Linked DNA regions of Homo sapiens. The protein of the gene in region 2 interacts with the protein of the main gene of each other region in a pairwise test. Each region holds a gene or a part of one and is shown on either strand. Other genes may lie near its edges.

Region 1 (3,751 bases), on a different chromosome or scaffold from region 2:
ACATATCAACTCTGGTCTCCAAATTAGAAGAAGAATGAACAATACTTTTTATTATCACAGATACACTCTCTTTTTGACAAAAGCACCCCAGTTGTTTTTTAAAAGGTTTTAATTTTTCAGTAAGATATGCAGTATTTACCACTGAAATAATACATTTCCAATACAGTAAAAGTCATGTGTGGTGTATAGGATACGAACAACATACAATAAATAATTTTTTTAAAAAAAAGGTCTCCTCCACTCTTCTCATGAGGAAACTGCTTTGCTGAGAATGCTGGGTTGTTAGACACAAGCTGAAAAGTGACTTCCACAACTTGGCATTCAATCTGTATGTTTTCTGAGTCGCCTCTTAGGAACAATTCTATTAAAGCTGTAACAAAGAAAGATTCTGGAGGTTTCTACAATAACCATGAACACATACTTCCCATCTGCAGGGATCACTGAAGTGTGAGCAGCAGTTCTGTGCCTTGGTATAGACAGCAATACCCCCTCCTTTCTCCTTCCTTTCCCTGTGCTTGCCCGGGACTATTACCAAATTAAATGCCATATGTTAAATGGGATGAAAATGTTTCCTTGCCACTGTATCTTTTATTTCTATAAAATGAACTATGTGTCTTCCTGTCCCCAGCCCACAAAGCCTCCTGCATTTCCAGAGATAGATAAAATTGTGGACAATTTTCAATTTCAGACAACAACCAAGAAGAAAAAAAAGTATGATTCCCCTACAAATTTGTTAAATTTATTCTAATTTTATCCTCCCCTTTTCTCTCCCTCCCCCTCCACCTCCTCAAATCCAAATGTCACTGGAAATGGAGCACATTGTGACTGATTTGAAATGTAAAATGCTCCAGACTTTTAGCGTTACCTGGAAAATCTTCCTCAAAAATAATATTTTTGAAAATTTTTAGTTTGAAGCAGAAAAGTTCTGATATGCTGGACTAGCTTCTCACATCTGAAGGGATCCATTTAAAAGATAACGAGGGCAAATATGTAAAATAAATTCCTAGGGAAGGCAAGCTGTGTCTCTGCACAGTAGGAAGAAACTGAATTCCACCACAATGTTGTATTCCAGCATTCAATGGATGTAACAGATGATTCACAGAGCTTCTAGTTTAAAAGTCTCCCAAACCCACATAGAATGTGAATTGGAGTTTTAAAGAGGAAAAACAGCATTTTTCAAGAGAGAAGGAGAGAGGCAGGTTCCCACAACGCCAGAAGCCAGCACTGCTTTTCAGGCGAGCCTGGGAGCTGTCAGCAGTCATTGTCATCTGATGGGAAACCACAGTCTTACAACTAAGGACTGGATGCAGCCCCTTGCCCATCTTCTGCTCTTACAACAAGGAAGCGGAAAGGAGCACATGTAGATATCATGAAACACATTCTTTAAGAAGACAAACAAAAGATTTAGACAGGTCTCGGCCAAGCGCATGAAGTGAAGGAGTCGAGGATGAAAGCATGCCGAACCAAACGGCAGTCCCTAGCGTGCTTGGCTTTTTTCTCACTTTAGACCACATCTTCTTACTCTTTTCCTAAATCCATTAAACTTCCACATTAACAGAAACACCTGCACAGTAGAATTTTCCAAAACGGTAAATCCTGTTTTGGAAGGAATCCCTAATAATACGTAAGATACAGATTTTTAAAAAAGAACATGTTTTAGACAAGGACAGCATGATGCTCACCCTCCCTAACAAGGATACAGAAATGCAGATTTCTTCCCCTCTTACCAACTCCAGTACACGCTGACTCGCCCTCCCTGAGAGCGGTAATCCCTTTCCAGGGGCTGGCAAACAATCATGCCAAAGCCGCCCGTGCCCCAATGCGGACGCAGCGAAGCCACGGCAGAAGGGGGAAATCGGTTACCTGGGGAAGAACACAACTCCGCTCAGAGCTTCTTCAGAGCTCCACTCGCGCAGGACAGGGCAGCGCAGGGTGTGTGGATGCGGCTCCTCCCGGAGGCAGGCGCAGCGCACTCCCTCCCGCCGCCGTGACGATGCTGTCAGCTGCTCGCCCGCCGTGCGCCCTGCACCGCCCACCGGCCGTGCTCCCTGCGCCCAGCGCCCTCGCGCTCCACCCGCTCGCAGCCCCTGCACCTGCGCTGGCCTGAGCCGCTCCGGCCTGGCACTGTCACCGCCGCTGCACGCTCCTCCTACTCTCTTCAATCTCTGCCTTCTCAGATGTGCCAACTGCTGCAGAGGCTGCTGCTCCTGCTTAAATGGCGCCTGTTCGCCTCCAAAGAGCTTTTAGGTGCCACCTACTGCATGCTCTTGGAATAGATGGCGAGGACTGGAATTTTCTGATAATTTAATGAATTAAAATAATTCCATTGAAAGGGAACCAGATTCTTTTGTTCGCATTGCGAACTATAATCGCTACTAACCATATAGACTTTTTTTTTCCATTTCCAGATTTTAACTTTTAAAAACCGACTCATTTAAAGGCAGACGAAATGCCCTGCCCCATACCATAGCCAACCACACAGTGTAGATTAATATATTCTAATTTAATAGGATCCTATGACAACACCGCCATTGGCAAGCTTGGATTAGAATTGCTTTTTCACTGAGTGGTTTCACATTAGCATTTCAAGCAAATGACCACGTTTATTTCCTGACATTGATAAACAATTTTGTCAAAGACGCGTTGATTAAAAAACAGGTGAATCAGCAAGAAAAAATATTAATGGCTAACAATTCTGTGCAGGCATTTTTAAAAGTGCTTGAGCATAACATTGATCCATGTTAAGTTTAAACTACAGACTGAAGGAAGATTTCTTCTCTTGGTTATATTACTCATTCTTTTGTAATACCAAATATGCTAAAAGACTTGAGCAAAATTAATATTCTGTAGTTCTTTACATTTGATTTTTGTTGTAGAATCCTATTTATCTGTTTTAATCCCGTCTTCACTTTCTAAATAATTAAAACATGTTAACCTTTGAAGTTCATTTCCATAGTAAAATTCTGCCCTGCTATTCACAGGAAATATGCTTTTTAAAAATCATACTTAAAAACTACGCATTTTACAACTTATAGTCAAGAAAACTTATTTTATTCCCCAGTTCATCCTAATTCTGGCCTTGATCCTACAGCCATTGGAATATAAAAATAAAAATACACTCTTTTTACTAAAGTCATTTAAGGCTACTTCAACAAACCTGCCCCTACACTAATGATGTCTAAAAGCAGAGTGGTCACCCTGTCCTCCACAGTCTCCTCTTCATTGCAAAGGAATATATGGCCACTCAGAAACCCATCCCAGAGGAGGCTCCAAATATGATGACAGTGGATTCTGAGCACTGCCTGATGCAGTTTCTGGGTCCTGAAACAACCTTCCAGTTTTATAAGTCAGGATGTTGTTTTCCATGACAACCAAAATGTAGGTTATCAGGTTAAATGACAAAATGGAATTTAAGAACTAAACAAAGGAGGGTAAAAAGATTAAATAAGCAAAAATCCAGTGCTAGTATGGAAGCAGGGAGAGCAAATCAGGAGCTGATAAAGAGAGCCAGTTCTATGCTGAATATCCCACAATGCAGAAGAAGCCTGCCTTTTGCCACATGCCATCATTATTTGTTCTGAGAATGTGAAGCAGAGGCCCAAAGGCCTCATTTAAACAAGGAGCAACTCACTTAATATGATGTCTCTGGCCCCTTTGGCACTCCCCACAATCCCTAGACTTTCATCAGCCAGAAGGAGCAGATTGCTCCCAAATTCCTCTTTTAACTTCCCCTTAACTTACATCCTTCTAA
Region 2 (3,751 bases):
TTGATCTCCTGACCTCATGATCTGCCCACCTCAGTCTCCCAAAGTGCTGGGATTACAGGTGTCAGCCACCACGCCCAACAAGAAAACAGTATTTAAAAAATTTAAAAATCATATAATCTAGATACTAAATCAGCTGCTGAACTGCTGGCCTGGGTACTCACTATTGTGATCTTTAAAATAGCTCATTTGTTCATTTATTGGTTATCTACCATGTGCCAGACAGCGGCACAGCCAGCCACAAGAATGGATTTTTTTCTAACTCTGTGAGCTCTGGACATCATATACTATCTAGGTACCATTTAATTTCTAAATATCAGTAGGCTGCATGGTCAATGCCTGGCACAAAGAATGTTTGACACTGATGCTGATAACGGTGGTGGTAAAAGTAATAACAACAATAGCAGCAGCAACAACAGCAACCCCCATTTACCGAGTGTTTCCTATATCCCATGTATCAGCTAAGCACATTATATACATGATCTCACTGAATCTTCACAATACTTTCAGGTAAATATTATCCCAGTTGTTAGGACCTACAATGCTGGGTTTCTGAAAAAGACACTCTGAAGTTTTCTAGTGAACAGTTTCCTCTGGAACTTACTTTTGATTTACTGTGTCGTATAAGGGCAGACAGCAGTCTGTTTGACTCCCCCATCACACCAGCATGATCTTTGGCTTCACACCATTCCACCAAACGCTCCACTAACTTAACATTCTTTCCCAATTGTTCAGCAGCTTCTGCTATAGGAAAGAAGGCAAACCAAGGAATGAATCACTAACAGACAATCAGTTGAAATAATTCGTACAGATTTGAGAGTGTGAAGGACGTCTAAAAAAACACAGCACGACAATTTCATTAAAGCTAGAACTGCAAATATTCCTTATGTGATGGGCTATTTGCCTTCTTCTGTAACACTGTGAAATTTTATAGAAAATACAACAACAAATGACTTCATACTCTTTTGGTTAAGCCTGCTAGTCTGTTAGTGCTCTGGCGGACTATAATGCAGGGTTCTTAGAAAGACTCTATGCAATCAATATAGAAAAGGGTTTAAAATTTAGAAATAAGTAAATAAACATAATTCATTCCTAGGAGTGGTTCTGACTGCTGTTTCTGCAAACAGAAAAATGCTCTCCCTGTCTGGAAGACAAATTTAAAAAATTTTTGACTGTCACAATAATGAAATTTGATTTCAAAGCCAAGGTAAAAATGGGTATAGAATGCCAAAACACAACACCCCCTGCCGAAACTGATGAATAAAGCAACCTAAAACCAGGACTATAAGTACTAATAAGGAGAGATATGGTATAATTTCTATTTAAAGTCAATTATAGGCTGGACATGGTGGCTCACACCTGTAATCCCAGCACTTTGGGAGGCTGAAGTGGGTGGATCGCTTGAGGCCAGGAGTTCAAGAGCAGCCTGAGCAACAAGCCCCATGTCTAGTGAAATTCCAAAACAATTAGCCAGGAGTTGTGGAGCATGCCTGTAATCCTAGCTACTCAGGAGGCTGAGGCAGGAAAATTGCTTGAACCCAGGAGGCGGAAGTTGCGGTGAGCTGAGGTCGCACCACTGCACTCCAGCCTGGGTGACAGAACAAGACTCTGTCTCAAAAATAAATAAATAAACAAATAAATAAATAAATAAATAAATAAATAATATGTATAAATAAATAATTATAACAAGCATAAAAATTAACAAATGGAGTTCCAAAACCAACTTTTAAATCTTTTATTTGCTATTTTTTATGATTACATAATCCTAAAAGCTAAAAACAAGTCCTTTTTCAACTAGAGGCACATTAAGACTATCATATGAAAAATGCAAGTTGGGGAAAACATTTCTTTTACCTTGTGCATCTATTAACATTCTTAATGTTCCCAGAAGTTTGAACTGAACAGGAGGCATTTCAGATTTAAGAAATTTCAAAACTGCCTCTGTGACCCCAGCTGATAACATCTTTGCTTTATTTATAACTGGAGAAAAAGAGAGACTATGGTTAAAATGGTATTAGCATTCCTGTTGATAAACATTCAATTCAATACAGGTTTATTAAGTATCTTTAAGATCCATGTTTTATTTTTCCATTTAGAAACAATCTTGTCACTTTTTTGTCAATTTTAAGAATGGAATTCAGTTGTTTATGTGTGTGTCCGTATCCTATTTGTGTATAAGCGGATAACAGACAATATAATAATTTTTATGACAGTATCATGGCTTTTTAGATCCAATCCAAAACACTTACTTACATAGTTTGTAAAGGAAATCTGAAAATGTTACCCTCTTACAACAAAAAGCACAATTCCGTTTTTGATCCAACTGTGTTAATATAAATGTTATAGACATTAATAAATGTTACTATCCTATGTAAACCAAATGAATTCAAATGGATTGGATCATCATGTAATTGTACTATTTCATCTAATCAGAAATTTATTTTTAGAAAGTAGGATAAAAGAATAGTTTTAACTATCTTTTGTTGTATTTTCCATAATACAGTGATTTCATGACTTCCAAAGGCACATTAAGGCTATTTTAAAAAAATTGTACATCTGCTTATAGAAAAACAACAACTGAAAGTCATTCTTGAGTGGACTCTGTTAATTGATGTCATTATTCTACCTCAACTAAAGATGCCTAAGGCCTGGTGCAGTAGCTCTCACCTGTAATCCCAGCACTTTAGGAGGCAAAGGTGGGTGGACTGCTTGAGCCCAGGAGTTCAAGACCAGCCTAGGCAACATAGTGAGATCCTGTTTCTACAAAAAAAAAAAATCAGCTGGGCATGGTGGCACATGCCTGTAGTCCCTGTTCCTCAGGAGGCTGAGGTGGGAGGATAACTTGAGCTCAGAAGGTAGAGGCTGTGGTGAGCCAGGACTGCGTCACTGCACTCTAGCCTGGCTGACAGAGTGAGACCCCATCTCAAACTTAAAAAAGCTTAACTATAAAACATGATGAAAATCTAACAGTTCGCAAAAGGTAACAGGATATCTGAATGAAGGCAAAGATTATTCTTGTACAGTCTCACAAAACTTATTTAACATATGATCTCCATTTATTAGCATGAAAAAATGTGAACAATGTGAAGACTATTTTTTTTTAAATTTTCTTCATCAGAGCAGGTTCACAAATCACATACAGTTAATAGCTTCCCCAAATGATGGATTTTATTTTGTACACAGCTGCCTTCTATTCTTAAGTCTTACCTGGAATGGCCAGGTTTCTGAGGGCACTTAGTGCTGCATGCTGTACTGTTACATTTCCATCTTCTACATGTCTGTCCAGTAAATCCATAAGTTTTTCTACAATCCCATTGTCTACCATATGAATACAATTTGCATCTGAAAAAAAAAACACACATCTTTTTCTTCCTCTTTAAAATATCTATAAATACTTTATAATACTGATGTCTGGCTATTATCTACATTAGGGAAAATGGAGCTATACAATAAAATGAATTCCAAATCTTTCTCCCATCAGATTTATAGGTTTTTCTGTTTACTGAGTGAGAAGTGTTAAAAAAAATTCTTAAACTAGATAAAAGTTTTAAAATCAGAAAATTACCAGAAAAATCTTTAGTTTAGAGCCAGATAATATATCAGAAGTAGAAACACATGGTTAGAATGTCCAATATTTTTCATTTATTGTGATGTATGCTTGTGTTCTCCCAATGTTACAGTGATAGTACTCTACCTTTTGCTATCATGGCTGATACCTAAATTATTTTTCAAACACTTACAAAGCGGAGAGAAT

The links.
Region 1: the proteins of RAP1GDS1 (region 2) and DIRAS2 interact in binary tests that used the Homo sapiens proteins (3 or more experiments, as listed by UniProt).

The regions. Positions count from the first base shown.
Region 1 is NC_000009.12:90,640,889-90,644,639, forward strand, and holds the start of DIRAS2 (GTP-binding protein Di-Ras2), read right to left. Parts: upstream 1,937-3,751; 5' UTR 1,864-1,936; intron 1-1,863.
Region 2 is NC_000004.12:98,418,245-98,421,995, reverse strand, and holds part of RAP1GDS1 (rap1 GTPase-GDP dissociation stimulator 1), read right to left. Parts: intron 3,340-3,751; coding exon 3,205-3,339; intron 1,978-3,204; coding exon 1,852-1,977; intron 742-1,851; coding exon 602-741; intron 1-601. UniProt on the Homo sapiens protein: Acts as a GEF (guanine nucleotide exchange factor) for the Rho family of small GTP-binding proteins (G proteins) that stimulates the dissociation of GDP to enable subsequent binding of GTP.